Linked DNA regions of Homo sapiens: all the other regions are linked to region 2. The links come from fine-mapping of genetic effects on gene expression. A gene starts in region 2. Each other region holds a variant in brackets. All regions are shown on one strand. Distances are from middle to middle. Region 1 holds the start of UBE2J1 (ubiquitin conjugating enzyme E2 J1). Region 2 holds the start of RRAGD (Ras related GTP binding D). Region 3 overlaps RRAGD (Ras related GTP binding D).

The links.
Region 1: its variant is fine-mapped to the expression of RRAGD in whole blood (INTERVAL, PIP 0.94).
Region 3: its variant is fine-mapped to the expression of RRAGD in whole blood (TOPMed, PIP 0.99).

Annotation. Positions count from the first base shown.
Region 1 is chr6:89,345,755-89,354,030 of GRCh38, forward strand. It overlaps UBE2J1 (ubiquitin conjugating enzyme E2 J1), which reads right to left and starts at 6,968. Exons shown (of 8, transcript NM_016021.3): 1 at 6,785-6,968. The coding sequence starts at 6,815. RefSeq lists an enhancer at 6,274-7,223 and silencers at 6,520-6,579, 6,610-7,319, 7,330-7,429. The variant T/G (reference allele first, on the strand shown) is at 4,837.
Region 2 is chr6:89,407,547-89,415,804 of GRCh38, forward strand. It overlaps RRAGD (Ras related GTP binding D), which reads right to left and starts at 4,727. Exons shown (of 7, transcript NM_021244.5): 1 at 4,300-4,727. The coding sequence starts at 4,447. RefSeq lists silencers at 3,684-3,783, 3,814-3,923, 3,954-5,143.
Region 3 is chr6:89,369,976-89,377,975 of GRCh38, forward strand. RRAGD (Ras related GTP binding D) reads right to left here. Exons shown (of 7, transcript NM_021244.5): 5 at 7,696-7,838; 6 at 2,462-2,610. Among named protein-coding and RNA genes, the nearest start is that of UBE2J1, 21 kb to the left of the region's middle. RefSeq lists enhancers at 2,115-2,409, 2,319-2,538, 2,909-3,028, 5,122-5,622, 5,623-6,123. The variant CAG/C (reference allele first, on the strand shown) is at 3,807.

The sequences.
Region 1 (8,276 bases), 62 kb before region 2:
AAATTAGCCTGGTGTGATGGCACATGCCTATAATCCCAGCTACTAGGGAGGCTGAGGCAGGAGAATCGCTTAAACCCAGGAAGTGGAGGCTGCAGTGAGCTGAGATCGTGCTGTTGCACTCCAGCCTGGGCAACAAGAGCGAAACTACGTCTAAAAAAAAAAAAAAAAGCCCTCCAGGCCGGAGGGCAGTGGTACGAACACAGCTCACTCACTGAAGCCTCAACCTCCCAAGCTCATGCAGTCCTCCCACCTTGGCCTCCCCAATAGCTGAGACCACAGGCATGCACCACCATGCCTGGCTAATTTTTAAATTTTTTGTAGAGCTGGGGTCCCCCTGTCTTGCCCAGGCTGGTCTCGGGCAATCCTCCTACCTCAGCCTTCCAAAGTGCTGAGATTACAGGCGGGAATCAGCATGCCTGGCCAAAAAAAAGTTGTTACTATCCTACTTCACAATTATTAATATTCTTTTCCATTTCTTACTCTGAACTAAGCCCCTATATGCAGAGACTTTGTTCACTGGATCATCAACTATTTCTTGAGTTCCTACTAGGTACTAGATGCTACAGCTTCATGCGTAAACAAAATATGGCTTTGGTCACTAAAGACTGACGGCTGGGAGGTGCAGTCAATACAAAACAGAATGATAAATGCTATATTAGAAATATGTACATACTGAGACACCCTCTCCCTCCAAGTCTAGAGACTGGGCTTTGGTCAATTCCCTGAACACACTTTACCTCCCCTCCACTCTCAGCCTTTCTATACAGCTTTCCTCAGGGCCCAGGCTGCTCCGGCCCCATCCTCCGCCTCACCGTCTAGTCTGGCTACCCTAGACCTTTAAGTAACTTCTCAGGAATGTCTCTATGACACCTTCCCTGGTTGCCCCCTGCCCCCCACCCCCTACAGTGCTTGGAGATTTCAATCTGGGCAGATCAAAATCTCTGAGGCGTCCTAGGGAGGGGTAGAGACTAGGAATGCTCTCTGAATTACTCTGGTTAGGTTTAGAAACCACTGCCCTAGAGACCAGGTTGAGTCTCCTTGCTCTATGCCATCATAACACTGTATTTTTCCTCTTATGAAGTTCATCTCACTTGTAATTACTTGTTTAATATCTGTTTTTCCTGCTAAGCAATAGTAATGACAGTGTAGCTGTAGCAGTACAGTCTCCTCAGGGCTTAGCACATGGTAAGTACTCAAATATTAGTTGAATTAAATTTTACTATCTTCTCTCAACATAGCTCTCAGAATCCGATTAAAGGCAATGGTTTTTAAACTTACTTAATAAAACAATTAAACTTATTTAATAAAACAAAATCCTTCATTCAAAGAAAGCTTAATGAGAACCCCAACAGGTGAAACAAAAACCACAGAGCCGCTTTGGTTGCAGAGGCCAGTGGAAGGGCCTGCGGACTATCTACTCCCTGTCCTTCCATTTCACTCCTGAAGGGACCCATAGAACAAAGATGGAAAACCCTGCTTTAAAGCCACATAAACATATCATTCCTTTAAGTTAATATTATTAGATAGAAATGCAATTATGGAAGCTGTTATGAAGTTAATTAGTTTGGAGATGCCAAAAAGATTGTTTTTCCTTCATTCCTCGTCAACTGGCTGAACTCAATAATGATTAAGCTGAAGTCAGATTTTATGTCATTCTATACCCTTATCGCATTTTCTCTGCCTCTTCCCTACTCAGTTCAGTTCAACAGGAGAGAAGAAAATAAACACTCAAAACTTGTACCTGGATATTATGAGAGATGTATAAAGGGTCAGAATTGTTATAAGAATGTATCTGTACCAATCCTGTAAAGGAACAATCATTGGTTCAACAGCTAAATAGCTAATTAGTTCATAAGTCACTCAGGCACATACCATGTAAGAGCTAAGGTCATGTAGCCAAAAGGTGAGATTAGTCTCTTGTTTCCATAAGCTATTTTTTTTGCAAAAATAACATATATTATGAATGCTTCAGTGAAAAGAAACAGGGACTCGATTTAGAGCTGCATTAAAATTCTGACTCTGACATTTTGTAGCTCTAAGTCCTTGAACAAGTCACTTGATCTGATGTTTACATCTGTCAAATAAGAGTCAATAATTTCTCCACAAAATTCTCCTTTCCTTTTCACCCCTCCTTCCTGCCCAGTCCCTGAGTCATTAAGGTTGAAAATGGACTGGTATATAAGGCCTTCTCAATGATTCTTCCTAACTCAAAACCATGCCTCAGCAGATTTCGCTGGCCTTATGATATGGCTCCCTGGCTCCTGAGGAGAAATACCACTGTTAGGAAACAGTCATGGTTCACAGTGCTGCCTGGCAACCGGGCTACAGCATAGTCTGCCCCTCCTGATACTCCATCTCTTGCTTCTACATGGCTAGAGAGGAAACTTTTATTCCAGCTCCTCTCCTATCTCTTGGAAAGGTTTTTCCATGGAATCCTTTCACTGTGGTGAGATAAGATGTGCCAGGAAAGGAAGGGGTGGCACCTGGATGCCTGCTCTTGTTCTTCTTTCTTATAGAGGCCACATGGACACTCTGGAGCCATGCTCTAGGTGCTGTGGGCCTAGGCATTAGCATTCTTCACACACCTTGGCTAGCTCACTAGCCTCACATTGGGGTTTGTATACAGCTAAAAATAAAGGGATCTTCTACAGGCCACTGCTTCCCATATATGGATTCCTCTTCAAAAGCAATTATCTTGATATTATCAATTCCCAAAGCATGAGTGAAATGCAGGAGACAGGTATATTAAGGAAGGCATGCTCCCTAACTGCCTCTTCCTGCTCCCATAATGAAGGTACTTAAGCAAATGCCTACAGAGTGATGTTTCTGCCCAGGAGGACCCTGCAAATGTATCAGTTCAACAAACATTTAAAGAATGTCTGAGTGTTGGAGATAAAACAATGACCAAGACCTGCTTCTTGTCTTCCGTAACAGTCAGTAGAGAAAGACATGAAAATAATTACAACCAAGTGGTAATATTGACCAAGTATATATGTACAAGTATATATAGGAACTACTTTAGTCTGCCTAGGGGAGCTAGACAAGGCTGAACCTTAAAGCTTGAAGAACTATAGGAATTTCAGATGGATTTAAAGGAAGGCATTCTAAGCAGAGGTTCCAACAGGAACCAAAGCACCTAAGTGAGAAAAGCTACTCCAGCTAGAGAGTCATTCAGGCAAAATGGATAGGTAAAAACGCAGGCCTGGTGCAGTGGCTCTCACCTGTAATCTCACCACTTTGGGAAGCCAAGGTGGAGGGAACACTTGAGCTCAGGCGTTTGAGACCAGCCTGGGCAACATGGTGAAACCCTCGTCTCTACAAAAAATACACAAATTAGCTGGGTGTGGTGGCACACACCTGTGGTCCCTGCTACTCGGGAGGCAGAGGTGGAAGAATCACTTCAGCCCAGGAGGTTGAGGCTGTAGTGAGCTGTGATGGCACCACTGCACTCCAGGCTGGGAGACCCTGCCTCAAAAAAAAAGAAAATGAGGAAGAGCATAAGAGTGGTGGACAGTGAGGCTGGTGAGGAAGGGCAGGGTCAATCATGAGCAGCCCTGTAGGCCAAGCTAAGCAGTTTACTTTGAACTTTATTGACAGCTATCAGAAAGCTACTGAAAATTTTTCAATTTGGGGGTAATCAGTTTTTGTTTTGATTGATCTGGTGACAACAGTGACTGATTAGATATATGTGTTTCTGTGTGTGTATTGAGTTGTGTGTTTCAGGGCAGGGATGGAGCAAGGAAGCGACCAAGAAATAAAAAATGACTCCCATAGGTGCCTGAGTGCTGTCTATCCCTGAGATATGAAATACTAGGGTAAACTGCAAGTTTAGGGGAGGAGAAGAAAACTGATGAGTTTTGTCTTTATACTTACAGAGATTTTTTTCACTCTATGGGAAATGAAGATGTTGAGTCACCATAAGTTCTGTGTATCTATAGCTTACGAGAAGGGCCTGAGTTGGACATGAAACCTTGAGTGGATTAGTGGGAAGGTGCAGTTGACACCAATGGCATGGATAGGTAACTCTTAGACTTCTGGTGGAGGCAGTGGGTACTTTTGCACCAGTCTCTTATACTCCCACCACCTGCTGCACATGTCAATGGCCCCCTGATGAAGAAGCTGCCAAAGGAGGTGCTTTATACACATTTCTTCACTTTGTACTATAAGACCCTACTTCCTTGGCCAGAGCAGACCCAAACACGGGTCAAGTAGCTTGATCCATAGACAACTATTGACAGATTATAGACAAGTAGCATGATCCATAGACAACTACTGCTACTACAGTAGCAGATCCATAGACAACTACTGACAACTACCACAGACAACTACTGTGAGGTGATCCTACACAACAGCTCTATCCATAATCACAAGTCCATTCCAAAAAAAAACCATAAAGCAAAAAGTTTCCCCACCTATGAAATGAAAAAATTTACTATATCCACATGCTAGTACACTGGCCCTTAACCAGCTATCTGTATTGTCTTCACTTAATCTTTCCACTCATACATCAAAGACAATCCCACATCAGATAAAGAGTAAAAGATTATATCCCTCACATTGTGTGGTTGTTTTTTGTTTGTCTGGTATGTTGGTATTTTACGTGTGTGTGTGTGTGCACCCTGCCATACACAGGAAATTGGAGTTTTCAGTTGCTCCCCTTCACACAGGCATTACTCTAAAAATACCACAGGACTGAGAATAAAGCAAAGGAAGGAAGTATTTTCACAATGCCTCCCAGCATTTTCAGTAAGTCCCATATCTTACCTAATTCAACTTCTCCATGAACTCCAAATAATTCACACACTAACAAAAATAGATTTTTAAGAAGCATTGTGT[T/G]TTTTTTTTTAGAGCAGCAACACTATCTTTGAGGAAATGAAACCAGAAAAAGGAAGCAATTTATGACACAGCTAGAAGCATGTCAACCAAAGCTCAACCAGCTGACAATAGTTCACATACTTTGGAAATATACAAAATTCTGGAGATTTTTAAAAGCTTATCATCATAGTATTAAGTCTAACCTATCGAAATTGAGCGATGTTTTCTGACAACAATCTCTTGGGTTCCACCAGTTCTCCATTCTAAACTGCACTACTACTCACATGTGCATTATCCTCTGGACCTTTCACTAAGCACCTCTGCTGTCCTAAGGAACCGTGTGACCAGGGAGCCACCATACATTTTTACCCAAACAGCTCCAGTTAAATATACCACAATGTAAATAATTCAATCATTTTACCATCTAGCTTAAAAATTAAGCTTTTCTTTCCCTCTTTCTCTTTGGTCTTTTCTTCCTCCCTCCCCACCCCGGGATTCTCTTTTTTTTTTTTTTTTTTTTTTTTTTTTTTGAGATGGAGTCTCGCTCTGTCGCCCACACTGGAGTGCAGTGGCGCGATCTCGGCTCACTGCAACCTCCTCCCCGGGTCAAGCCATCCTCCTGCCTCAGCCTCCCGAGTGGCTGGAACTACAGGAGTGCGCCACCACCATGCCCGGCTGATTTTTGTGTTTTTAGTAGAGACGGGGTTTCACCATGTTGGCCAGGCTGCTCTCCACCTCCTGGGCTCAAGCCTCCCAAAGTGCTGGGATTACAAGCGTGTGCCACCGTGCCAGGTCTTCATCAGATTTTTTTAAGGAGTCAGTGGCTCCTAAAATATTATGACCAGTTCTACACACTTGGTCACCTAAGGACATTTCTTAGCCTGACAGCACTCAGGCTAACAAAGCTCCCTCCAATCAATATCCTCAGGCTTTTCTGGGGTTTTTGCATATTCTGAAACCTTACAAAAAACCCAAAGATTCACAGTGTCAACTCTTTCCACAAGGATGCTAGTCTTGCTAATTCCTACTGAGAAACAGCTTTTTTTGGAAGGAAATTTTAAGCAACAGCAAAAGTTGGTGAAATCATCACTAATATCCTAGAGTTTATCATGCAGAGTTAACTGTGGAGTTTCTTCCCCCTGACAAAATGTATCAAGGTACAGATAGAAAAAATACCATTTAGAGGATCCAATGATTCATTTCAAGCCTGTTTTATTAAGCTGAGAAAGCTAGTTGCTTATCTTTATAATGCACCAGAAAGTAATTAGAGGCTAGGATTGCTGGGACTGCTTGTGTAAATATAAAGCAGGATCATTAAATGCAGGAAAGGAATCGCTACGACTGAATACAGATACATTTCATATTAGCCAGTCTGGCAAAAATCAAGGTTAGCTCTCAAGAACAGGGCTCAACGAGGTGTTTTTTTGTTGTTGTTTTGTTTTGCTTTAGCTCTATAGTTAACTGGTTTAGTTACAGAACATTTCCTTTATGTCTGTAATTGTATTCGCCCAAGTGCTGCAAATAGGATATTTAAACGACCAACTCCTCAAATGTGAGTAAATCAGCCGGCAGTAAATAGAAGTAAATAGAAGTCCGGTGGCAGCGACAGGGAGGGAATAGCGACCAGGTACAGCGAGGGGGTTGATGACTATCGCCCACCGACATCACCTTTACACCTGTTCTCAGGGATGAGTTTCTGACCCAGCTCTACGGGACCAGGCGAAGATGAGAAAAGGGAGAGGCTGGGTGCTGCGGGGCGCGCTGGCCGGCCGGGGGATTGGCAGCGGACGTCCACCCGGCCACCTCGCCCTGCGGCCTGTACTTCCCGGGCAGGCGGCGGTCTCGCGTAGAGCGCGAAACCAGGAGCTGAGCCGCGAGTGGCGCCAGACGCGAGGGGACCGAGGCGGCGACCACCCCGGGGTCCAGGGTCACTCCGCCCTCCTCGCCCAGGGGCCCCAGCCCTGCTCACCCGGACTCTTCAGGTTGTAGCGGGTCTCCATGGTGGGTCGCTGGCTTGGCTCCGGCCTCCCGGGCCGCTGCCACCTCCTCTCCACGCGGCCGCTGCCCGGGTCTCAGCGCGGCTCGGGCGGACGGGGCCTGGCCGAGGAGCCTCGGCAAATGCCGCCCAGTCCAGCCTGGACTGCGGGCGGGGTGGCAAGGCTGAGTGCGGGCGAGGCGCTCGCTTCGCGATGGCGCCGCCTCCTCCACTGCGCCCCCGCCTCCCTGAGTGCCTGGCAGGCACCGGCGCCGGCCGGGGCGGCGCTGAACCGGGCGCCCGGGCTGGAGGTCAGCCTCCTCGGGTAGTCGCAGGCCCAGCCCTGCCGCGGCCGCCCGGCTTGCGTCACCCGCCCTCGTCCGGGATTTGTGAAGTTGCCCTGACGTGGCAGTAGCTTCGTGGCGGTCGGTCACTACCCAGCCGCCGCCCGCCCGGCGAAGCCGGCTTGGGGAGGTGCAGGAGCGAGCGGCGTCCTCGTCCTCTCGTCCCGGCCCTGCCCGCTGTAGGCGAGGTCCGGGACCCCCGGGCCCTCGAGAGCTCGGAGGGGGCGCCGGGCTCCGGCTGCAAAGCTGTCCGCAGCCGGCTGCCCGCGCGCGGTCCCGCAGGGTCTGGGAAAGGCTTTGTTTTTAGATTCAGTTGCTGTTGCGAGGGGCGGGGGTTAAGTGAGGAGGGGGAAAGCCAGTGACAAGGAAATGGAATAGGATTTTTTTTATTTTTTATTTTGTGTGTGTGTGTGACGGTGTCACCGCTCTGTCGCCCAGGCTGGGATGCAGTGGCGCGATCTTGGCTCACTGCAGCCTCTACCTCCCGGGCCCAAGCGATCCTCCCACCTCAGCCTCCAGCGTGGCTGGGACCACAGGTGTGTGCCACCATGCCCGGTTAATTTTTTGTATTTTTGTTAGAGACACGGTTTCACCGTGTTGGCCAGGCTCGTCTCGAACTCCTGGACTCAAGCGATCCGCCCGCCTCGGCCTTCCAAAGTGCTGGGGTTACAGGCGTGAGCCACGGCTCTGGCCAGAGTTGGATATTCATAACAATTTTTTTCTCGGGTAGTGTGTTAGGTGCACGACATGTTTTAGGCATTGCAGGAGTTTTGTTTTTTTTGGTTTGTTTAGATGTAAAAGCTGTCAAAAAAAGGAATTACATTTAATGTGAGGGAAAGCATACAAATATGAAAGGTTAAACTTCAAAGGACACACTTACTGCTTCATTGTCCAATGTGTGGGATCGAGAGAGGACTGAGTTCAAAAGACTTAAGGAGTAGGGACCTTACTAAAGGAAAGGAGGGAGGGATTGGGAAGGTGGGGAGGATAGAAAGGGTTAATCAGGTTGGGCAAGTTTTATTCTGTTATATAAAGACATAAACTCTTAAATTTGATTTGTTTTCTATTGTTAAAGTTAATCTAAATCTGTGAGTTTCTTGATGAAATTGGGAGTAAAAAAGTGAAGGATATCTAAAATTAGA
Region 2 (8,258 bases):
CAGGAGAATCACCTGAACCCAGAAGGTGGAGGTTGCAGTGAGCCGAGATCATGCCACTGCACTCCAGCCTGGGCAACAGAGTGAGGCTCCATCTCAAAAGAAGGAAAGAAAGAAGAAAAATGAGCAGGAACGAAGTGTCTGTGCTAAAAGTGAAATTGATTGTCACCAGCATTTACTATGGGCTGGGGGAGGATTGAATAACACAGGGGGTGAACTTGGGGCAGACTCAGTTATCTTTGAAAGACAAAAGATGATCTCTCAAACCCAAAGTCATCGGCTCTTATCCAGAACTTGCTGTTTGTGCCTCCCGTTTCCATTAGACTACCCTCTATCTAGTATTAAAATGGAAGAGATCGCTAATAAAAGTAGAGAGTCAGTACTCTCTGATGCCCTGAATCACTGACACAGGTTTATAAAACATCTGATATAGAAAGATACTCTCTAAATACAGGCATTCGAACAAGTATTTACCTAAAGTTTAACTTTGGGCACATCATTTTAACCTATTATGTAGTTTCATCTGTTCCAACTCTTCTGTATTTCCAGGGCCAGAAGGAAATCTAAGAGATAAGCTGTGTCCAGGGCTGTAGTCAAGCCAGCTCTTTTTGGATAAGGCAGAATTACAAGAAAAGGGGCTTACATTTCCATATACTTGATCCTCTTCTAAATACTTCGCTCATTTCTAGCTCATGATAGGGCAGTAGAAAAGCCCCCTGGTATCTCTGAGCCATGATTTCAGTATCAGTATAACTGTTATCTCTACTTACTTCCAAGGAACAATGAAAAGGTGAATTCCCTAATATTTTTAAAATTATTTTAGGAAAAAGCCATGCACAGTCATGCATGCCTATAATCCTAGCTACTTGGGAGGCTGAAGCAGGAAGATTGCTTGAGCCCACAAGTCCGAGACCAGCCTAGGCAATATAGAGAGACCCAGTCCCTTCCCCACAAAAGGCTAACATTAATGAACTAATGATTAATACATATGAATTGCTGGATTCACCCCATCTACATCCTTCAGGAAGGAAGACCCTGGATCTTTCATGCCTCCAGAAACCACCTACACAGTCACTTCCTCAGACCCTAAGGGTGCGCACAGGCTGCTATGAAGGCAAAGACCGAACTTCACTGGACTGTGGGTGAGCAGCTTACGTTAGCCAAGTTTCTCCTAAAAAATGGGAGGGGTTTTGGGGGGAAAACAATTTTACTTTCTGATTAAATATGATCTTGTAATTGCTTTCCCTGTTATTACAGTTTTTAAAGCACAGTAATTTATCAAAAGATTTAAAGTCCATGAATCTAAAAATAATCATTATTTTTGGTGCAATTGTTTTTAACGGCCTAACCATTCCCTCCTCTCTGGTAGTTTTATCTGGAGTGTGGGGATTGAAGGTGAGACTCACCTTACCTGCAATTAACTACCATGAAAGGAAGGTTGAGAGGTGCCCAAATCTGCCCTAACAGAACTAATGTGCCTGAGAACACTTTTGCTATTCATGAATAAAATATGGAGTGGAAGCCAGAGAAGTGCAATTTAAGTCTCACCTTAGTTGCCCTATGTTTTCAAACTCAGTACAATGTGGTAAAATTTACAAGGCATACTCGGTTTAAAAATAAGACCAGAGGTTCCTTTATAAGTCCTACAGACTGAGGGAAATGAAAATTGCATTACATATCCACCTTTAGTCCACTTCTCTTGCACAGCTCCTGATAAATTGCTTTGCAACTTAACTGGCAATACTAGTTGGTCCCACATCCCACCCTCAGCCTCCCACCCACCAGGGTAGATTTCTGAACTTAGTGGAAAAAGTCCCACGTCTCCACTAAGTGCAGGCACTAAACCAAGCTATTAGGAAGGGGAAAGGGGAGTGGGGGTTCATTAGAGAAATGCTTTGCTAGTGGTTCAAAGTACATCTTTTCTCAGAATAACTCCTTTTTTTCCCTACATTCTATTTCTTAAGTTTGAGAGTAGGTAAATGTAAATTTTACCAAAAATAAAACAAGATTATAATGCAACACGTGAATCAGCCTTTTGAAGGGCACAGGAAGGGAAGTCACAACTCCCAACCTCCTCCTCCCAATCCCCACTCCCCAGACCATATCAGCTGGCCTGACAGCCATCAGGAGCAGTCCTCGCTGGAATTGCTGACTGAGGAGCCTATCTGACACTAGAGAGCAAATGTCCTGACAAGGGATTCTGCATCAAGGCCTAAACCCAAAAGTCAAAGCCAGGGAAATCTGGAAAGAACAGAGGCCAAAATATAACGGAGGAAGTCTGAGAAGCAGACCACCTATCCACTGCAGGCCCAGGTGGACAGAGACCAGGCTTAAGCAACGTTTGCCGAGCAAACATGTTGCTCTTCTCACAATATAAATATATTTAATCCTTTTATAGCAAGATCCCAAGCTGATCCCAAAAGCCCATTCAGAAGGATTTTATTATGCGAGTCACCAAAAATCAGTTACAGGCAAGTTTGCCTTTACGTTAACAGCTAAGGAGCCTCCAAGTCTGGGCTCTGGGGAAGCCCTTTGTTCCGGGAATCCCATCCCTCAAGCAGGGCTTTAATTTCACTTCAATTTCAAGTCCCCAAATCAAATTTTAAAAGTGCCCACTTAAAGAACTGCAGAATAAACGAGGGGTCCAGTACTTTTTCTGGACCCTCCAGGCCTCAGGACAGTATCAAATTACAGGGCTTTCCCTCCTGGATATGGCCCCTCCGCCCCCCCACTTTTTTTCTTTTTTAAAAAAGAGAATCCCACACACACCCTACTGTGTCCACCATTTCAAATACCTTGCAAATACATCCCTATTCTGCATCTCTCCGGAGTCTTCTAAGAATCTGGGAGGAGCTAACAAATGGAATTTGAATAATAATGAGGCGACTGAACAATTTAATTACGGAAGGTAGCTCTAGAGACTCCAATAAAACGGCTGAAAGCCTTTATCTACAAAAATGTGGCCTGGTGCTCAACGGTAAGACCAATTACCGGGAGTGCAGAAGACAGAAAGCACAAAGGTGCACACATCAGTTTAAGCAAATGAGGAATTAGCACAAATCATCCCAAGAGAGAAAACGCTATGAAAAAGGGTGACTTGAGAGGCTGCTTTCTCATCTACCAGGCGCAAGGCATAGTTAACTTTATTTCCTTTCTGATTCATTGAAAGTCGTGCCTGCCAGATGTAGAATAATGAAACTACCCTAGTGAGAAAAGCTTTGCATAGAGAATTTAAAATAAGTTCAGTGAATTCTCAATAAAAGTTCTTTAAAAATCAATAGTCACAAAGGTACTTGTATCTCTCACACAATTTCTTCAGTGTGAAACATTAAAGTTAGTTCCTTCTCTTGGATGCATACAGTTTCACTGAGAATAACATCATGTTTAACAGCCGCTTTCTATTGACCTTTCCAAGTGACCTTACAGTAAAGGAACTTTTGCTCGCTTCTGAGGGAAACTAAAAAAAGTTTAACCTCTCTGGAATACTAAAAGGCTCTCAACTTCCTTACACCTTAAGAAAATGCAGGAAGCCCCCACAAGCTGAACGATTGCTAAAACCCGCTTCTAGAACAGGAAAAAGAGTTTGCTTCACTATTGAAGCAAAGAATTCCCCGCCGCGCGCTCACTCCCGGGCAGGCACTGCCATGTCCAGGTGGTGATACCGAGAGCAGATAAGGTGTCCTGACAACGGTGTTTGCGTGGATCCCGGGAAATCTGCGGCCTCTCGGAGACTCCCACAACAGCTTGGCGAGCATCCCCCCGCCGCCCCGCGGGTCTCCCCAGCCACTACCTGGGTGGGCCCCTCCCGCGGCGACGCGGGGCGAGACTGACACCCGCAGCTGCCGACGACCCTGCCAGTCACGCCGCCGCCGGCTGCCTTTTTTTAGCCACGACATCTGACCCTGGCTTCAACAGCACCGTTCTGGGAGAGAGGTCCCAGGGCGCGCCCGCGGTCCCCTCCCCTCCCCAACCGCCAGACGCTGCGGAGAGCTTGGGGTGAGGGGCGCGGGAGGCACCGGCTCTGAAAGGGGCAGAAGCGCGCGCTCCTCCAGCCCAGACGCTTACTCCCTCCTTCCCCTTTTCCACCGATCCTGGTTGCCCCTCCGCCACCAGCACCGCGCTCCCTCATTTGGCAGCTCGAGGTCGGGCTTTTGGCGTCCCTCCCCACCCCAAACCCTCAACTGGACCCGCTCCCCTGGACCCCCTCCAAGTCGGTGGCTCGCGCACGGCCGGGCTGGGGGCGGGAAGGCGCCAAGGGGAGGAAAGGGGCGCGAGCCGAGGACGCGGGGGCCGGGCGCTCACCTCCCTCCTCTGTGCCGCTGTCCGGATCGGCGTCGGAGGAGTCGGGCCCGTCTCCGTAGTCCGCTAGCCCCACCAGCTCATCCTCCTCCTCCTCCTCCTCCGCGTCGTCCTCGTCCTGCGGCTGCGGCTTCCCCAGCACCTGGCTCATCGTGCCCACCGGCCGGCCGGCCCGGGGACGGCGGGGGTCCCGGGGTGGGGGCCAAGCCTCCTAGCCGGCCGCCCGCAGCCTATTTCTGAAGCGGAGGTTTGTCTAGAGCTCAGCGGGGCCCGGCGGAAGCGGGGGCCGCGCGTCCCCCGGCGGGCGGCGCCCAGGTCCGGGTCCCGCGGTTCCCAGCGCGCCCGAAGCCCCCTCCCCCGCCCCGCCCGCCGGCGGAGGAGTCAGCCGGAGCGCGGCAGTTCCTCCCGGAGGAGGGAGAGAGAGAGAGACTGCGTGACCCGAGTCACCTGACACACACTGTCACATACTCACATACACACCCCGCACGGGCGCGCGCGCGCTCGCCCGGCCGCGGGCACCACTCGGCGGGGCGCTGGGCCGAGGACACACATGCACACGCACACGCACACGCACGAGGAGACCGGGGAGGCGCGGGGCCCCTGCACCCTCCCAGACTCACACCGACACACGCCCCGTACACGGGGCCCCCGGGACGCCGGCCGTCACCCACCGCGGCTGCGCGCCAGGGGCCCCCACGCGCCTCTCCTTCACGTGGTCCCCGCACAGGCAGGGGAGGGGGCGCCGCACACCCTCAATGTCCCCCCCGCCGTCCCACTCCCACACGCCCGCAGAGCGTCTACCGTGGGCGGATGCCTCCTGCTTACAGTCCTGAGCTAGGGTCCCAAGCGGGTGGCCTCCCAACACTGTGGCGCCCAGATCCCCCACCCCAGAGCAGCGTGCCCAGGACACCCTGTGGACGCTCAAGAGCCCCAGGCGGAGAACTCAGATAAATGCACAGTGGAGGCGCAGTCTCCATAGCAATTGTCTTTTAGTGTGCCTTTATGGTTCAAAGTGCTTCCCACCAAGAATATTTAAAAAGCAGGCCTACCCAGACGTAAATGTTTCTGAAGAAATCACATGACTCGTGGCTGCTTAGACTAAATAATTCCTCTGCAGCCCTTTGGAAAAGGTCTCAGTGTATAACACACTCGGGGGCTATTCATGGCCACCTCCTCATGTCTCATTGTTGCATAGACTGTAATCCCACATGAATAAAATATTTCAAGGCTTTTGTGGGAGTAGGGGAGTGGCGGTGGTGGGGGGGCAATTCTCAAATAGGAATAGCAGCAACGTGGAGTGAGACTCTAAAACCTGCATTCCTCCTTCACAAGCTTTTCACCACGGAACACACTGTACCCACCCTTTCTGGGTACTGCAAAAAATTACGTGGATGAACTTCCTTCTGTGGAGCACAATAAGAAAAAACCGGCCGGTCAGCATGATGATCCAGCTCCTACAGGTGCCAGCAGCTCAGCCGGTGGTGCGGTGCAGAAGCGGAGGGAGGAAGCTAGGGCAGGAGACTCTCAGGGCCCAAGGGTGCTAACCTCCATAGGAAACATTTATTAACCACCTCCTATATGCCTGAGGCTGGGCTAAGTAGAGGGTCCAAGAATGCTCAGGGCAGTGTTCCTGCCCTGAAGGAGCTCACAGTCTACCAAATCATGACTCATGTCCTGGATTTTTTTTAGTATTTCTGAGTGCAGAAGGTGGATGCAGACACTTTCCAGAAGGTGGCTGCTTCTAATGGGAAAGGTCCTGAGATTTTCCAAGGGAGGCAGGCAGTATAATTTGGTATGACTGTATCAGTTAAGGTTCTTCCCAGGATGAAACAGACGGTATGTGCAAAGACTTTAACTGAAGCCTTCAAGTGAAGGAACAATTTACAGGGGTGTGGACAGAGTTTAGGGAATCAATGCAGGTATTAGCGATAGTGGGAAGATAACACCACCCCTAAATTTACAGGAGTGAGGAAGGGAGCTAGAGTCCTGGAGAGGGGCCACAAAACAGGAGCTGTAACTGATGAGGAAGCTGCTGCTGCCAGAACGGCCTCACATCAAGGAGAGAGCAAAGACCTCTCTTTCTCTCCATCCATCCTCCCTCCACTCTCCTGTGTCTCCCATTGGCCAAACCCATCTGGTAGCCAGAAGGCAAGGGAGCCTGGAACCTAGTCCAGGACAGAGATTGGATAGGGAGGGCAGGGAGTGGGTCCCTGGGTGGGGTGAGGTGCAAGGAGCATCACCAACACAAGCAGGCACTACATACTCCCATCAGAGGCAAGTTACTTATGCCCTTCTAAACCCGATTGCTTATCAATAGAACATCACTCCTTCTAAGGATTATTAGGAAGATTAAATGAGGCGGAAAAAAAATCTCAGGTACTTACAAAGCTCATTTCCTAGGAGTAATTTTCCTAGCCTATTTTCATCCCTTCCGTCAAAGGAAACCCCAGGGAGGAGGGCCTCCCAGAGTGTGGCTGAGGACTTTCAGCTATTCTATAGCTAGCCCACCATCCTCAAGTGGCCTTTGAACTGGTCTGATTCAAACTGCAAATAACAATTTAGGAGATCTAGAAGACTGTCCAAGGTCAACCCAGACTCAGACGTATAGGGCATTCCTGGGCAGGTTGCCAAGTGTGTAAGACCCATGGACTCAAGGGATCAGGAAAGGGCAGGTCATAATCCAACAGCCCCACTGTGCCTATGGACTAGAAAGGACAGAAATGTCTGATGATCCTCTAACTTCCCCAGGAAGAGAGATCTTAGAAGGAAACAATAGATTGGGGCACACTCCAAGATACTTGAGAATTGGACCATTCTTTTGTTTTTTTCTTTTAACATGGAGTCTCACTCTATCACCCAGGATGGAGTGTAGTGACATGATCTCAGCTCACTGCAACCCCTACCCCCCAGGTTCAAGCGATTCTCTTGCCTCAGCCCCTGAGTAGCTGGGACTACAGGCATGCACCACCACACCCAGCTAATTTTTGTATTTTTAGTAGAGACAGCGTTTCACCATGTTGGCCAGGCTGGTCTCGAACTCCTGACCTCAGGTGATCCACCCACTTCGGCCTCCCAAAGTGCTGGGATTACAGGCATGAGCCACCGCACCCAACCTGGACCATTCTTAAGAATAAGAATAAAATAAAATCCCACAAAAAAATCAGTAGAAGTCAAATCCTCAATTATATTCTACCCCAAGCTAAAGAGTCATATACAGATTTAAGATATTCTAATTTACTACCATTTCAGAAATGTATAGTTGAACAGAACAGGAAAAGCCTTGATTGCTTTTTTTCTTTTGCTGACATCATTTGAATACTGTCAGCTTTCAAAGAAGAGATATGTTGAAAATATCCTAGAAATAGAAGTTCTTGAATTTAAAAAATCATGTGTGTAGAATCTTTCTGAATTTAAATAAAAACTGAAAAACACTACAAGAACCCTGAAAGCCTTTAAGAAACTCAGCGTGGGATCTGCTCAGTGAATTGGCTGCTGCCTTGGCCGCTCTGCACTGGAGCTCAGCCTATGTCTGGGGATGTCTCCCCAGGAGAGTGCTCTGAAGAATGTGAAGATTGGTCTCTGGGCTACCCATGGTTTCTGCTGTGGTATGTAACCATGGCAAGTATGTAACCATGGCTTATACTTGACAGGTGCTTAATAAATGCTTATGGAAAAAAAGAGAGATGGGAGAAAGAAAAGAAGGAGAGAAGGAAGGGAGGGAGGAAGAGAAGAAGAAAAGAAGGGTGGGAAGAACGGAGGAAGATAGTATATGGCTCTTCACACAGATCTAGCCTATTTCTGAGAGAAACTTCAGGAAGAAATAGCAGCCAAGTTTTCTACTTGCTCCAAACCTTGGGAAATGCCACAGTGTGGGTAAATATGAAGTGTTAGCTACAAGAGAGCAACTAGGAATGAGCTGACATGCAAAAAGAGCATAAGTCTTAGGCCTTCATCTGTCCAAG
Region 3 (8,000 bases), 38 kb before region 2:
AGCTGCACAATAAAAACACCCAGGCACCAGGCACACCAGGAGGCCAGGCACAGCACAGCACTTCGGGAGGCTGAGCAGGGAGGATCACTTGAGGCCAGCAACCTTTAGCCCTGACTGCCATAAAGTGGTGGTGTGATGTTGAGAGAAAGTCATTTATATTTTCTAGGCCTGAGTAAAATCATCTGTGACATGAGAGGGTGAAACAAGGTGTATTCCTGTCTATCTTTAAAATTCCGTGATCTATTATATAATCTGTTCTTGTTTCTAGCAAGATGAAAATAAGGAGTAAAAGATGAACACCATTTAATTTACAGTTCTGAGGCCAAAGGACACAAAAGGCAATTTGGTCAGTCATGGTACACACAGGAAAAATACAGGACATCACTAAGCAGCAAGAAAATGTAAATTCACATAATATACCAGTTTTCAGTTAACAACTTTTAAAAATACTAATACCCAATATTGATAAGAACACAGCAAAATAAGTATTCATATTCTCTTCGCAGCATAAAACCAGAAAATCTTTCTGAAGAACATTTTGGTAATATGCATTAGAAGCCCCCAAAATGGGCCTACCCTTTTGATCTAAGTAATTCCACTTTAAATTTTTCCTTAGGAAACAACCAAAGATGCACATAAATATTTAGTGCAAAAGAGGTCATAATGATATTATTTATAACATTAAAATCTAGAAACAACATAGATGTCTGAAAATAGAAGAATCTAATACAATCATTAAAATGATGTGGTTAAAAAAAGACGGTGAATTGGAAACATGTCTGTAATAATTTAAGTGAAGGTTATAAAGTAGAATTCATCATACAATCTATCATAGTCCTTTTAGAAAATGCATATGCAAGAAAGGACTGGAAAAGTATACAGGAAATGTTAAGAGTAGTTATCTGAATGAGAAACATCGATAATTATTGTTTTTTTGCTAAATATTATTTCTAAATTTTCTAAAAGAATCTATTACTTTTCTGATAAAAATAAACAATGTAAATTAAGTTTTCATGGCCAATGAATTAGGAAAATTTCATGATATACGTAAGTGAAATATATGTAATATAAAATATAAATATTTTCATATTTGTATTAAATATAAAACTATATTAGAATATAAAACTATATTAGACAATATGGCCCCAGTTTTGTTGGAAGGAAGGAAAAAAAGGAATGAAGGAAGGGAGAAAAGGAGCGAGGGTAGGAGGGAGAGGAAATAAGAGAGAAGGGCCAGACGTGGTGGCTCACTCCTTTAATCCCAGCACTTTGGGATGTCGAGGTGGGAGGATCACTTGAGCCGAGGAGTTTGAGACCAGCCTAGGAAACATGGTGAGACCCCAATCTCTACCAAAAACAAAAAAAAATTCCAGGTTGTTGACATGTGTCTGTGGTCCTAGCTACATGGGAGGATGAGGTGGGAGGATCACTTGGGCCCGGGTGGTCAAAGCTGCAGAAAGCCATGACTGTGCCACTGCACTCCAGCCTAAGTAACAGAGCGAGATCCTGTCTCAAAAAAGAGAGAGAAAGGGAGAAAGAAAATCCCAGAAATTTAACATGGGTTTAGCTCTAGATGGTGAAATACCTGGTTTTATTCTACATACTTTCCTAAATTTTCAAAGCATTTTTAATTTAATGGGCTTATATTGCTTATAATATAGAAGAAAAAGGCTATTTCAGGATATGTTACTATAACATATTCAGGATATGTAACTATTTGTTGGAGATTTTCTTTTACCCAACAAATTAGTAAACCATACCCTATTACTAACAAAAGTCCCTAGCCATATCAGTAAGCTAGGGACTTCTGTTAGTAACTTTTGTTTAGATATTATAGAAGGGGGAAATTAGTTTAATTGCTTTTGTTTCAAAATAAAACTGAATTTGATCCTAAAAAAAATTTGGTGGAGTTAAATATATTCATGGTCTTCCCTTTCCGGAATCATGATGCCATCCCTGTGTTCTGAAGATTTAAGAAGTATTTTGAGGCTGAACAGAAGTCAAACCACCTGTTGTCCCCTCCTTTACATGGGAAGAACAAAAGATCACACGGTTACCTAAGACCTTCTAGAGGTGTGGAGCAAAGTGGAGACCTCCACCCTCAGTATAGGCTGGGAGTCTGCTCCCTGGTAAGAGACTTCATTCACAGCCTGGCAACAGTGCCCCAACTAGCTTCCCCCTAGCAGAGATGCCAAGGCCCCTGGGAGGATCATGGGGTTCCACTTCCACCTCGCTGCAATCGCAGATGCACCACTAGAGGGCAGGCCAGTTCACTGGCCCAGAAGCTGACACTGGGGGCAGGAGCCCGCCCCGCTCTGAACTCCAAGCCAAGAGGGCCTGTGACTGGCATCTGGAAGTTTCGAGGGCTATGCTGTTGTCCACCCACATTCAACAAACAATACATGCAGTAGCAGTCTGATGCTTCTTTTAATGCTTCTTTTAAATCACACCAAAAAGTTACCTTTTCTTTCAAAGCTTTCCTCTCTGACAAAGCAAACGAGAGCCAGGAACTTTGTCACCTCTTTTAAATAAAGCACGGTTGTATTATTAAGCTTTATGATGGCTGTGGATTCCTTGTCATAGGGGGTTCCTGCTCCATCTTCTTTGAGACTAAATGGGGACAGAAACCAAAACATGTGACCATTGAGAAAGAACTAGAAACTGTAAGCCAGTGACAAGAGACCGGCTTTAAGCCACAAAAAGTGATAATCATAAGTTGTTTACACTTGCAGTGCCTTTCAGCAAAAGAGCTCAGAAACACACAGGCACAAAAACATACACAGTCCTCAACAGTCATTTCCTACTGACAATGAGTGGCTGTCTGCAGCAGCTGGGACACTCTCCAGGCACCTGAAGAAGCCAGTTGAAGGATGAGGTTAGCTCTCCCCACCTCCGTGGCCAAGGGCTTCTTGTTTTCTCACCTAGAATAGCCAGGCTGTCAAAAGCGTGGTCTGATGAAAGACTAAGAAAGGCTGAAGATATGTTCCAAATTCAAGGAGTCTAAAGAGACCTGAAAGCCAAGTGCTAGACTGGATCCTGAATTGGGAAAAACTGCTATAAAAGATAGAATTGGGACCACTGGTAAAATCTGAATATCGTCTATATATTAGATAATAATGTAGCCATGCTAAATTTGCTGAACTGTGAACTGGTTCAATTTACTCTCAAATGGTTCACTGAAAAGAAATAGATACACAATATGTATTAGAAAAAGAGAGATGCAGCAAATATGGCAAATTGGTAAAAACTGATGAATCCCAGTGAAGAGTTATACAGGAGTTCATTTTACTACCCTTGTATATTTTCTGTAGGTTTTAACTTTTTTTCAAAATAAAGAGTTAAATAAGATATATAGGTCTATTTGGCCAGGCGCAGTGGCTCACGCCTGTAATCCTAGCACTTGGGAGACAGGTAGATCACGAGGTCATGAGTTCAAGACCAGCCTGGCCAATATGGGTGAAACCCCATCTCTACTAAAAATACAAAAATTAGACAGGCACCACGTGGTGGCGCACACCTGTAGTCCCAGCTACTCGGGAGGCTGAGGCAGAAGAATCCCTTGAACCCAGGAGGCAGACGTTGCCGTGAGCCGAGATTGTGCCACTGTACTCTAGCCTGGGTGACAGAGCAGGACTCCGTCTCAAAAAAAAAAAAAAAAAAAGATATATAGGTCTATTTAAGAAAAGGTGTGGTGTGCAGACACAAGTGACTTGGGTTTGAATCTCATTTCTTTTATTTGCTAGCTATGTGAGCTTGGACAAGTCGAATAACTTCTTTGAGCCTCAATTTCCTCATATGTACACTAA[CAG/C]TAATTATTTCAAAGTTTTCTAATGAAGATTAAATGAAATAATGCATATGTAGCACTAAGCATAATGCTGAGAACATAAAATACACACTTATTATCATGGCTTTAATGACTGAAACTGGACCCTCTGAAGATACCTGTGTAATAAAAGTGTTATGAATCCTTTCCTCACAGGCAAAGGACACTTCCCTAAACCTTTTCCCCCTTACCTAAAACTGTACATAAATTTTCTGATTTATTTTTACTCCCCAAATTTATGAATAACTGACCAGAAATTTGACTTAATTGGAATTGTGTTAAACCTTACCACATTCACTGAGAACTAGCATTTATTAAAGCTTACTATGTGATATTAACCATTCTTAGTTCTTAAAATGCATTATCCTCTGTCTGCTATAAGAATCCTCTAAGTTTCTAAGGAAACTGAGGCTAGGGGAAAATAAGATAACTTGGTCAAAGCTGACGATAGGGGTAAAGTCAGGACCTCAAACCTAGATATGGCTAATTTCAAAGTTAATGCTTTAATCCTGTAAATACACAAGGGGGTACAGTATCAAGCCAGATTTAATGAAAAGCCTGAATTGCACAAGAGTATTTTTAGGAAATGTAGGTTTTTAGTTTTGAGAGTATTTTAAGCTGCCATATACATGGCCACTTAAAAGTAAATTGTGAGGGTGGGCACGGTGGCTCAGGCCTATAATCCCAGCACTTTGGGAGGCCGAGGTGGATCGCCTGAGGTTGGGAGTTCGAGAACAGCCTGACCAACATGGAGAAACTCCGTCTCTACTAAAAATACAAAATTAGCTAGGCGTGGTAGTGCATGCCTGTAATCCCAGCTACTCGGGAGGCTGAGGGAGGAGAATCACTTGAACCCGGGAGGCGGGGGTTGCAGTGAGCCGAGATCATGCCATTGCACTCCAGCCTGGGCAACAAGAGCGAAACTCCATCTCAAAAAAAAAAAAAGTAAATTGTGGAAGTTCGTATTTTTTGTTTTTTTTAAAGGATTCAACTCACTATAACCTACCAAAACATTAAAGAAAAACCTTTTAAGTGCTGGACATCAAATGTTAAAGATGCTTTAACAGAATTCATTAACTTCCATTGCACTGTTTTAACTACTATATTTTAAGGCTCAATCTCTCTTGCTTATAAGTAATGTTCTGAGAACAAGAAACTGAAACATTTAACATGTTTTACCCAATGAAGAAAATAGCATTTAAAATTTCCAAGTAAATATAATACTATATAGATATTAAACACTGTTTATTAACAGCATTTAATAATACAGGAAAATTATCAGGTGGTAATGTTAAATGAAAAAAGCAGGATGAAAAATTTCACATACAAATGTGATCTCATTATCCTAAAAATTACACATGGAAATAAGAACAAACTATATAAAATGTAAACACTGACTGTCTCTAGGTGGTGAGATTATGGGCTACTTTAATTTTATTCTTTAGACTTTTATGTATTTTCTGCAATAAGCATGTATTACTTTCACAATCAGAAAAAGGTAAACATTAAACAAATTAGAAAAACAGACTCCACCAAAAATTACAAGTAGAAATTGATGAGGTTTGCAACTGCAAAAACTGTTTTACTACTCAAGTTTTTCATCTATAAGCAATGAAAACACATGAAGATAGAACATATTTTAAAGTGTGTGCATGTGTGTGTGCATATATGTGCGTGTGCATGTGTGTGCATGAGTGAGCACAGAGCTGCCAGCTGGGGCACAGCCTCAGCTGAGAGATTCCTGAGGCACCAGGTCACCTGATTCTAGGGCCTGCTGGTCTCCACTGGGCAGGTGGGGAGGGGCAGCAAGGCCTCCAGTTACAAGGGCACCTGCTTCCTCATTGCCTAAGAGGGCCCCAGGCTCTGCACACAACCCTGCCTCCTGCTGGTTAACAGGACTGGCTTGTTGCTGCTCCAGCAAACAATCTGAGGAAACCCCAGAGCCCACAAACCATCTGTGACCCAGACTGGTTCTTACTGAATCCTGTGGGTTCTCAGAACACTGTACTCCACCACAGAAAAACCAATCTGACGGCAAAGCCAGGCCACCTCCTCCTAACCCCTCCCTCCCCATGTTTGTTTTAGCTGGGTAAAAGTAACTCTGATTAACATCATTTACATGAACAACTTACCACTTACAGCTAATGACCATATGGCACAATAATGATCATGCACATTGTTAAGCATGTGCCAGATTAATTGTGTTGTTCATTGTACTTGATTACCATGGCAATCTGCACTGTAATCAGGGTGCGTTCATCTTCCATGACTATTTCAAGGTCATCCATTTAAACGGTTTAAAAATAATAGAATGCTTCAGGGCAGTAATCTTGGGCAATAAGGTTTATTTCTAAAGCCAGATGTCAGCGTTTAATTATAACAGTAATAATAAATTATGGCAGCTACATTTATCCAGAGTCTACCAGGTAAAGGCACGTTATGAGCCTAATGATATTTCATCCTCAATACAATCTTGTAAGTATCACTTTCCATGTGTGTGTGGTGTGTGTGTGTGTGTGTGTGTGTGTGTGTGTGTGTGTCTAACAGTTAACAGAGAGAATCCGAGCTGAGTGGGCAAAGGATTTTTAAGCAATGGAAGAGAAAAATGGAGACTAGACTCTCACAAAAGCTGAAAGGCAGAGCGTCAAGCTGTGTAAGGCAGGTCACAGGCAGTGAGTAAAGAGGAAGATGAGCAAAAGCTTTACCTCATCGATTAGATGAGGATGTCAGATACAATACAGATAGCAACACCTTAACATCTTAATAAGATGAACAACTAGTTCACACCTAGTCAGTCTGTACACCACCTGTTCAGCACATTTATAATTATGTAGAATTGTTTCTACATCGGGTAACATAATCAGTTTCCCCCACTCCTTGTTTATTTTATATTAAGTGTATAGGAAGCTCTGTTTTCTAAGAACGGTATGTTAACAGATTTTTTTCAGCAGAGGATCAGGAATCAGATCTGAGTTGAAACTCCAGTTCCAATCCTTACTGATAGTGTGAGCAAGAGTAAGAAATGTAACCACTCTGAACCTCAGTTTTTTCATCTGTAAAGTGAATACACTACAGTTGACCTTAAACAACACAGATTTGAACTGCCTAGGTCCACTTATACATGGATTTTCTTCCGCTTCTGCCACTCCTAAGACAGCAAAATCAACCCCTTCTCTTCCTCCTCCTCAGCCTACTCAATGTGAAGACAATGAGGGTAAAGACCTTTATGATGACCCACTTCCATTTAATAAATAGTAAATATATTCTTTCTTATAATTTCTTCTCTGTAGCTCACTTTATTGTTAAGAATACAGTGCGTAATACATAACATACAAAATGTGTGTTAATCAATCATTCATGTTATTGGTAAGGCTTCCAGTCAACAGTAGACTATTAGTATTAATAGTTAAGTTTGTCAGGGGGGAAATATATGTGGCTTTTTGACTGTTCAAAGGGTTGGTACCCCAACCCCTGTGTTGTTCAAGGGTCAAATGTAATTCCTGCCACATCGAATAGTTGAGAATTAAATGATAACCTGGGCACAGTGGCTCATGCCTATAATCCCAGCTACTCGAGAGGCTGAGGTGAGAGGATCATTTGAGCCCAGGAGTGATCTATCCTGGACAACACAGGGACACCCTATTGCTAAAAAATTGAAATAAATAATAGGAAGCATGCAATGAGATTAGCATAATGCGTGGCATTTGCTCAATAACTGTTATTATTGCATGCTAACTGGTATATTTATTTATAGATTTCAGTCATTTAAGACAAAAATGTTAAAGTTAAGTAAGTAAATGTAAATGCAAAATGCCTGAAAGGTTATGAAGGAAGGATGGCTTGATTGTGGCCTTTAAGAATGTTGTACTTACCCATAAATACAAGAGATGTCAATAACCACATCTATCATATCACAGCAGAGCTCATAGGTTTGCATATCCACCGGAGTACTATCAGTTGCAATATAAATTTTACTGACCACATCAAATAGAAATGCCTTTTCAATTCCAGAATTCTGAAATTTAAAAAAAAAAGTTGCCTTAAAGCAACAGTCAACTTCAGACCATGTCATGACTACACAAAATTGAATGCCATTCTTAATGTAAAATACAAAATGAGCAAAACTCGCTACTAAAAATTTAAATTGTATCATTTTATTACAATTTAAACTTCACTG